Linked DNA regions of Homo sapiens. The protein of the gene in region 1 purifies or fractionates together with the protein of each later gene. This does not show direct contact. Each region holds a gene or a part of one and is shown on either strand. Other genes may lie near its edges.

The links.
Region 2: the proteins of AAMDC (region 1) and MANSC1 purify together in Homo sapiens (co-immunoprecipitation; one large-scale study listed by IntAct). This does not show direct contact.

Annotation. Positions count from the first base shown.
Region 1 is NC_000011.10:77,841,387-77,845,211, reverse strand, and holds part of AAMDC (mth938 domain-containing protein), read right to left. Parts: intron 2,734-3,825; coding exon of another isoform or gene 2,716-2,733; coding exon 2,584-2,715; intron 1-2,583. UniProt on the Homo sapiens protein: May play a role in preadipocyte differentiation and adipogenesis.
Region 2 is NC_000012.12:12,343,657-12,347,481, forward strand, and holds part of MANSC1 (MANSC domain-containing protein 1 isoform 1 precursor), read right to left. Parts: intron 1-3,825.

The DNA.
Region 1 (3,825 bases):
AAGAAAAGGGAGATAGGAGTAGAAAGAATACTTGAAGAAATAATGGCTCTAAACTTCCCCAAATTTGATTAAAAAAACAATAATCTACATCTTCATGAAGCTCAATAAATTCCAAGTAGGACAAACTCAAAGATATCCATACCTAGACATATCATAGTTAAATTACTGTGATGTGTTTTGAAAGCAGTTAGAGAGAAGCAACTCAACAAGTCCAAGGGAGATCTAATAATGCTAATGGTTGATTTATCATTAGAAACCAATGAAGCCAAAAGGTGGTGGGATGGCATATTGAAAGTGCTGAAAGAAAAAGACGATTGATCAAAGAAATCTATATCCAACAAACTATTCTTCAAAAATGAAGGATCTACTTCCATCATTACATCATGAGGCGCTCCACTGACCCACTCCTATGTGAAAAATTATTAATAATAACGACAAAGAAAAACCCAAACCAAGAACTCAACAAAACAACAAAACAAAATCCCTAAAGCCTCTGGAAATGGTCCTAAGAGCAAATACCCAATGAATAAACGTGTATTCAACAAAATCTGGCTGGGCATGATGGCTCATGCCTGTAATCTCAGCATTTTGGGAGGCCAAGGTGGGAGGATTTCTTGGGGTCAGGAGTTCAAGACCAGCCTGGGCAATGTAGTGAGACCTCATCTCTATAAAAACTAAAAAAAATAAGCCAGGTGTGATTGCATGCCTGTGGTCCTTGCTACTCAGGAGGCTGAGGGAGGAAGATCCCTTTCACCCAGGTGGTGTAGACTACAGTGCGCCATGATCTCACCACTGCACTCTAGCCTGGACGACAGAGGGAGACTGTCTCCAAAAAAAAACAAAGAAAGAAAGAAAAAACTGTAAAAAAAAATTTGCTGCAATGGACTTAATATGTGTGTCCTTTAAAAATGTATATATTGAAACTCTAATCCCAATGTGATGTTATTTAGAGGTGGGGCCTGTAGGAGGTAACTGGGTCCTAAGGGTAGAGCCCTCATGAATGAGATTAGTGCCCTTATAAGAAGCCCAAAAGCTAGCTACCTCTCTTTCCACTATGTAAGGATACAAAGAGAAGTTGGCTGTCTGCAAACTAGAAGAGGGCTGATACAGTTTGGCTGTGTCCCCACCCAAATCTCATCTTAGATTTTTAACTCCCACAATTCCTGCATATTGTGAGAGGAACTCGGTGGGAGGTGATTGAATTATGGGGGTGGGTCTTTCCTGTGCTGCTCTCGTGATAGTGAATGAGTCTCATGAGATCTGATGGTTTTAAAAACGAGAGTTTCTCTGCACAAGCTCTCTTTGCCTGCCACCATCCATGTAAGACGTGACTTGCTCCTCCTTGCCTTCTGCCATGATTGTGAGGCCTCCCCAGCCATGTGGAACTGTAAGTCCATTAAACCTCTTTTTCTCCCCAGTCTCAGTTATGTCTTTATCGGCAGCATGAAAATGAACTAATGAAAATGAATTAATACAAGGACCAGAACCATGCTGGCATCCTAATCTCACACTTTCAGTCTCCAGAACTGTGAGAAATAAATATTTATTATTTAAGGCACTCAGTCTATGACAATTTTTTTTATAGAAGCCAGAACTCATTGAGATATTTGGTAAGACAGGTAAGAATCTGTGCACATGTACAGTGGAGGCGTCAAGATAAATGCCTTCCTGCCCCATCCCCATCGTGAGGCAGAGACTACTCTCCAGATTGCCATAGCCAAGAACACAAGACTCTTTCTCCCCTCAGCATCTAGCTGGAAGGCTTCCTTCCCAGGAGGAGCAGGACTTTAGTGCCTCTCATCCTGCCCCCATCTTTCTGTTGTTGAGGCTACATCCCAGGTGAGTGGGGTCAAAAGGTAGAGGCTCCCTTGTTTTGCCCAACTTACACTCATGGAAAGGAGGCTCTACCTTGGGAATGGCACACTGAGAATACTTGAGGAAATGCAGGGAAATGCAAATAAAAACCGCAATGAGAACAACACTTCACACCTAATAAGATGGTTCTAATAAAAACAAAACAATGAAAAGAACAATGTGTTGAGGAGGATGTGGAAAAACTGGAACCTTCCTATATTCCTAGTGGAGATGTAAAATGGTGCAGGTGCCTTGGAAGATAGTCTGGCAGTACCTCAAAAGGTTAAACACTATATAACCCAGAAATCCACTCCTAGGAACACACCTAAGATATCTGAATGATGTAATTTATAGAAAACATCCAGAATAGGCATATCTATAACAACAGAAAGTAGATTAATCATTTCTAGGGGCTAGGAGTGGTAGTAAATGGGCACTGACTGGTAGTGGTTATGTGGTTCCTTTCTGAGGTGATAAATATATTCTGGAACTAACAGTGGTAACTGTTGTACAAGTTTATGAATGTAAGTCACTATAATGTCACTACAGGGGCATTGAATGTAAGAAGTCCATTGAATTGCATACTTTAAAAGGGTGAATTTAATGGTATATGAATTATATCTCAAAAAGACACAAGAGAAATAGTTTTTCACTTAGTCATTGCAGCTTAGGAAGTTGGAAATCACTTGGTCAGCCTCATGTAGTATCAACCAAAGACTAATATCTTACCTCAGTTCCTGTTTCTCTCCAATCCCAAGTCCGACTACCCCCTGGCCATACTTTGCAGTCCTTATAGGTTGTATTAGAGCCTTTTACTTTCATTTGCCCCCATGATAAGGAAGCAATTTCAGGGGAAGTCATAAGGAACTTCACTGAAGTCTGAAATTAAAAGAAAAATATACTAAATCAGTTATAAAGTAAGGCTGAAACAGTTTGAAAATACAGTGATACTAAGCCCTGATTCTCCATGATTTAAGAAGCATCTTTTCATTTACGTGGTTGTTACTTCTTCTTTAGAGGTCTAAAAAGTAACTATTATTCCTGGAATCCTGAATCATCCAACCATAGAAACCAGATACTGCAATTACTTATCAGGCTCCAGAGGGAATCCTTAGGATATTTTTGAGAGATAAAATTAAGAGATGAAGATTTACTTCAGCATGATGGAGTGAGGTTGACATATTCTCTCCCCAAGAAGAAACTATAAAGCTAGAAAAAAACTGTCAAAACCAAAAATTTGTCACTCTAGAAATAAAATTAAAGGCATATACCACAATCAGAGAAATGCTTATTCATGAAGATCGCTGAATTTCAGATAAGGACAATTTCTTTTTGTTGTTCTTGCCTGGAACAACCCCCATTCCACCACTCCAGTTCTGTTGTAAGTGAAGTTCAAGTAGGTTGGGGCAGAACATGAAAATGAACAGCCTTGCCGCCATGGCCAAAGGAGGCTTACTTGAGTTGGAGCCATTATCAGTTTAAAAAGGTGATCTCAGTGGCAAGCAAACATGGATAGAAGGTGGCTCTGCTTGCCTTATGTTGCCTTTTATTTGAGGCAAGCTATGGATTGGCAAACTAGGTGGGATTTAACAGGAATTTCCCAGGGATGACACAGCCACAGGGGGCTTTATAAGCTCTCTACATATCCCAAGTGGACCAGAGGCTGCAAGGATATGCATCAAAGATTTGGAAGATAGACCCAAGACACCCAAACATTCTGGGCTAATGGATCCTCAGCACATACACAGTGGATAAGCAAGAAGGTTCAAGAGGGCCTTGCAGAATGTAAAAGCCAGTGAAGACATACAACAGCTGGACTTTGAACGCACTCCCCTGTACACACAGTGTTCCATCAGTAGAGAGAGAAAGTCTTACTGCCTCAAGGTGTTTGAGCCAAATGTTTAATTAATGTTTGGCTGAACACTAAGCTATATACACACCAAGGAGAATCTTGGGAAACTGGGTTTAAGA
Region 2 (3,825 bases), on another chromosome or scaffold:
TGAAGGAACAGGTATAAACAGTAGGCCTGCCTCGGAATTCTACAATCCTTCCCTCTTCTAACTCAGAGCGGAGAGGGCACACATTTCTAGTCACTGATGAAGCAGTAGTAATAGGTTTGAGCATATTTCCTTTCTCAGTAATAACAATCAGCATTTTAAAATCATCTACTAGGGGCTAGGCGTGGTAGCTCATGCCTGTAATCTCAGCACTTTGGAAGGCTGAGGTGGGTGGATTGCTTGAGCTCAGGAGTTCAAAACCAGCCTGGGCAACATGGTGAAACCCTGTCTCTACTAAAAATACAAAAAATTAGCTGGGTGTGGTGGCGCATGCCTGTGGTCCCAGCGACTTGGGAGGCTGAGGTGGGAGGATCGCTGGAGCCCAGGAAGTTGAGGCTGCAGTGAGCCGTGATTACACCACTGCACTCCAGCCTGGGTGACAAAGCGAGACCATGTCTCAAAAAAAACTTAAAAAGTAAAAATAGGTGACAATATACTAGATGGTAGACATTGTGCTAAGGAATTTACCACTCTTTTGAATTGTTATTCTCTTTAATTTATTACCATCTTTAATCTTTATACCAACTGTAATGGCTAATACTGAGTGTCAACTTGATTTGATTAAAGGATACAAAGTATTGATTCCGGGTGTGTCTGTGAGCATGTTGCCAAAGGAGATTAACATTTGAGTCAGTGGGCTGGGAAAGGCAGACCCACCCTGAATCTGGGTGGGCACAACCAAATCTGCTGCCAGTGCAGTTAGAATATAAGCAGGCAGAAAATGCGAAAAAGAGAGACTGGCCTGGCCTCCCAGCCTATATCTTTTTTTTTTTTTTTGAGACAGAGTATTGCTGTCGCCAGGCTGGAGTGCAGTGGCACAATCTCGGCTCACTGTAACCTCCACCTCTTGGGTTCGAGTGATTCCCCTGCCTCAGCCTTCCGAGTAGCTGGGACTACAGACGCATGCCACCACGCCCGGCTGGTTTTTTGTATTTTTAGTAGAGACGGGGTTTCACTGTGTTGGCCAGGATGATCTCGATCTCCTGACCATGATCCGCCTGCCTCGGCCTCCCAAAGTGCTGGGATTACAGGTGTGAGCCACCACGCCCAGCCCCAGCCTATATCTTTCTCTTGAGCTGGATGCTTCCTGCCTTCAAACATCAGACTCCAAGTTCTTCAGTTTTGAAACTCCTTGCTCCTCAGCCTGCAGATGGCCTATTGTGGGGCCTTGTGATCATGTGAGTTAATACTTAATAAACTCCCATATATATATATATATATATATATATATATATATATATATATATATATATATTACACTAGTTCTGTCCTTCTAGAGAACCCTGACTAATACAACAACCTTGCAAAAAAGCTATTATTGGCCGGGTGCGGTGGCTCATGCCTGTAATCCCAGCACTTTGGGAGGTCAAGTCACGTGGGCGGATCACCTGAGGTCAGGAGTTCGACACCAGCCTGGCCAATGTGGTGAAACCCCATCTCTATTAAAAATACAAAAATTAGTTGGGTGTGATGGCGGGCAGCTGTAATCCCAGCTACTCGGGAGGTTGAGGCAGGAGAATCACTTGAACCCGGGAAGTGGAGGTTGCAGCAAGCCACGATTGCACCACTGCACTCCAGCCTGGGTGACAAGAGCAAAACTCCGTCTCAAAAAAAAAAAAAAAAGCTATTATTTTCCTCATTTTATAATGAAGAAACTGAGATAGTCTTTCCTATTGCTGCTTCTCCTTAAGAAGTATCAAATCAGAGTTAGAAAACTCTAATAATCTAATTCTAGAAATTAGCCAGTCAGCAGGAGGAATACGCTGCCTCAGTTAAAGGAAAGTTTAGGGGCAGGTTTTCTTTTTGACAGCCTTAAAAATACAAAAGTCACACTATGTATAATGCCAACTCTATTGAGATGCTGGTTCTTTTAGGAAAAATAAATGTTAAACTGGCAAGACAATACAAGAAATTATCCTCACCTATCAACCTCCACATTTCCTTTTAACATTTCATTAAACATTTTGTTGAATACAAATTGTTTGCTGAATGATAGCTTAGAGCAGAATTACTACTTCTTTAACCTTTGTTTATTAACCCCTTTGATAGTCTGAGGAAGCTCAGGATCTCTTTTGTGAGACATATTTAAAAATGCATAAAATGGAATATGTAGGATTCCAAAGGAAGCCAGTTATAGTGAAATATAATTACCAAAATAGATTTTAGAATGTCCCTACAAAATCCTGGTGAAAGAAATCAAAGAGGAGCTAATAAATAGAGAGATATAACATGTTCATGGATAGGAAGACTTTATTTTGTTAACATATCAGTGCTTCCTGGCCAGGCGCCATGGCTCAAGCCTGTAATCCCAGCACTTTGGGAGGCCGAGGCAGGCAGATCATGAGGTCAGGAGATCACAACCATCCTGGCTAACACGGTGAAACCCCGTCTCTACTAAAAATACAAAAAGTTAGCTGGGCGTGGTGGCGGCCGCCTGTAGTCCCAGCTACTCGGGAGGCTGAGGCAGGAGAATGGCATGAACCCCAGGCGGAGCTTGCAGCAAGCCGAGATTGCGCCACTGCACTGCAGCCTGGGCGACAGAGCGAGACTCCGTCTCAAAAAAAAAAAGGTATCAGTGCTTCCCAACTTGAGCTACAGATTAAATACAGTCTTAATCAAAAGCCCAAAGTTATTTTTTGGATATCAACCAACTGATTTTAAAATTTACATGGAAATGCAGAAAAGACCAAGAACAGTCCAGAATACTAAAGAACAAAGTTGGAAGACTGATACTACCTGACTTCAACACTTACCGTAAAGCTACAATAATCAAAAAAGTATGGTATTAGAAAAAGAATAGACAAACAGATCAATGGAATGGAATAGTAAACCCAGAAATAGACCCTCACAAAGAGAGTCAACTGATCTTTGACAAAGGAGCAAAGGGGATTCAATGGAGAAAGGACAGTCTTTTCCAAAAATGGTACTGGAACAACTGGATATCCATTTGCAAAAATGAATAAATAAATAAATCTAGCCACATACTTTACACCTTTCACAAAATTTAGCTCTAAATGGATCACAGACCTAAATGTAAAATATAAAACCATAAAATTTCTAGAAAATAACAGAAGAAAATCCTTGTGACCTTAGATTAGGTGATGAGTTTTTAAATACAATACCAAAAGCACACTCCATGAAAGAAAAATTTGATGTTGGACTTCATTAAATTTAAAAACTTCTGCTCTACAAAAGATACCGTTAAAGAGAATGAAAAGATAAACCACAGACTTGGAGGAAATATTTGAGGTGGTTTTTTTTTTTTTGGAGGAAATATTTGTGAAACACACATCTGATAAAGCAGCAGTCCATAGCCTTTCTCGCACCAGGGACCAGTTTCATGGAAGACAATTTTTCCATGGACGGCGTTGTGGGGGTATGGTTCAGGATGATTCAAGTGCATTGTATTTATTGTGCACTTTATTTCTATTATTACATTATAATATATAACGACATAATTATACAACTCAACATAATGTAGAATCAGTGGGAGCCCTGAGCTTGTCTTCCTGCAACTAGACAGTACCATCTGGGGGTGATGGGAGACAGTGACAGATCATCAGGCATTAGATTCTCATAAGGAGTGTGCAGCCTAGATCCCTCACATGTGCAGTTCACAACAGGGTTCGTGCGCCGATGAGAATCTACGGCCACCACTGATCTGACAGGAGGTGGAGCTCAGGCAGTAATGCATAATGTAAATACAGAGGAAGCTTTGCTCTCTGGCCCACTGCTCACCTCCTGCTGTGTGGCCCATTTCCTAATAGG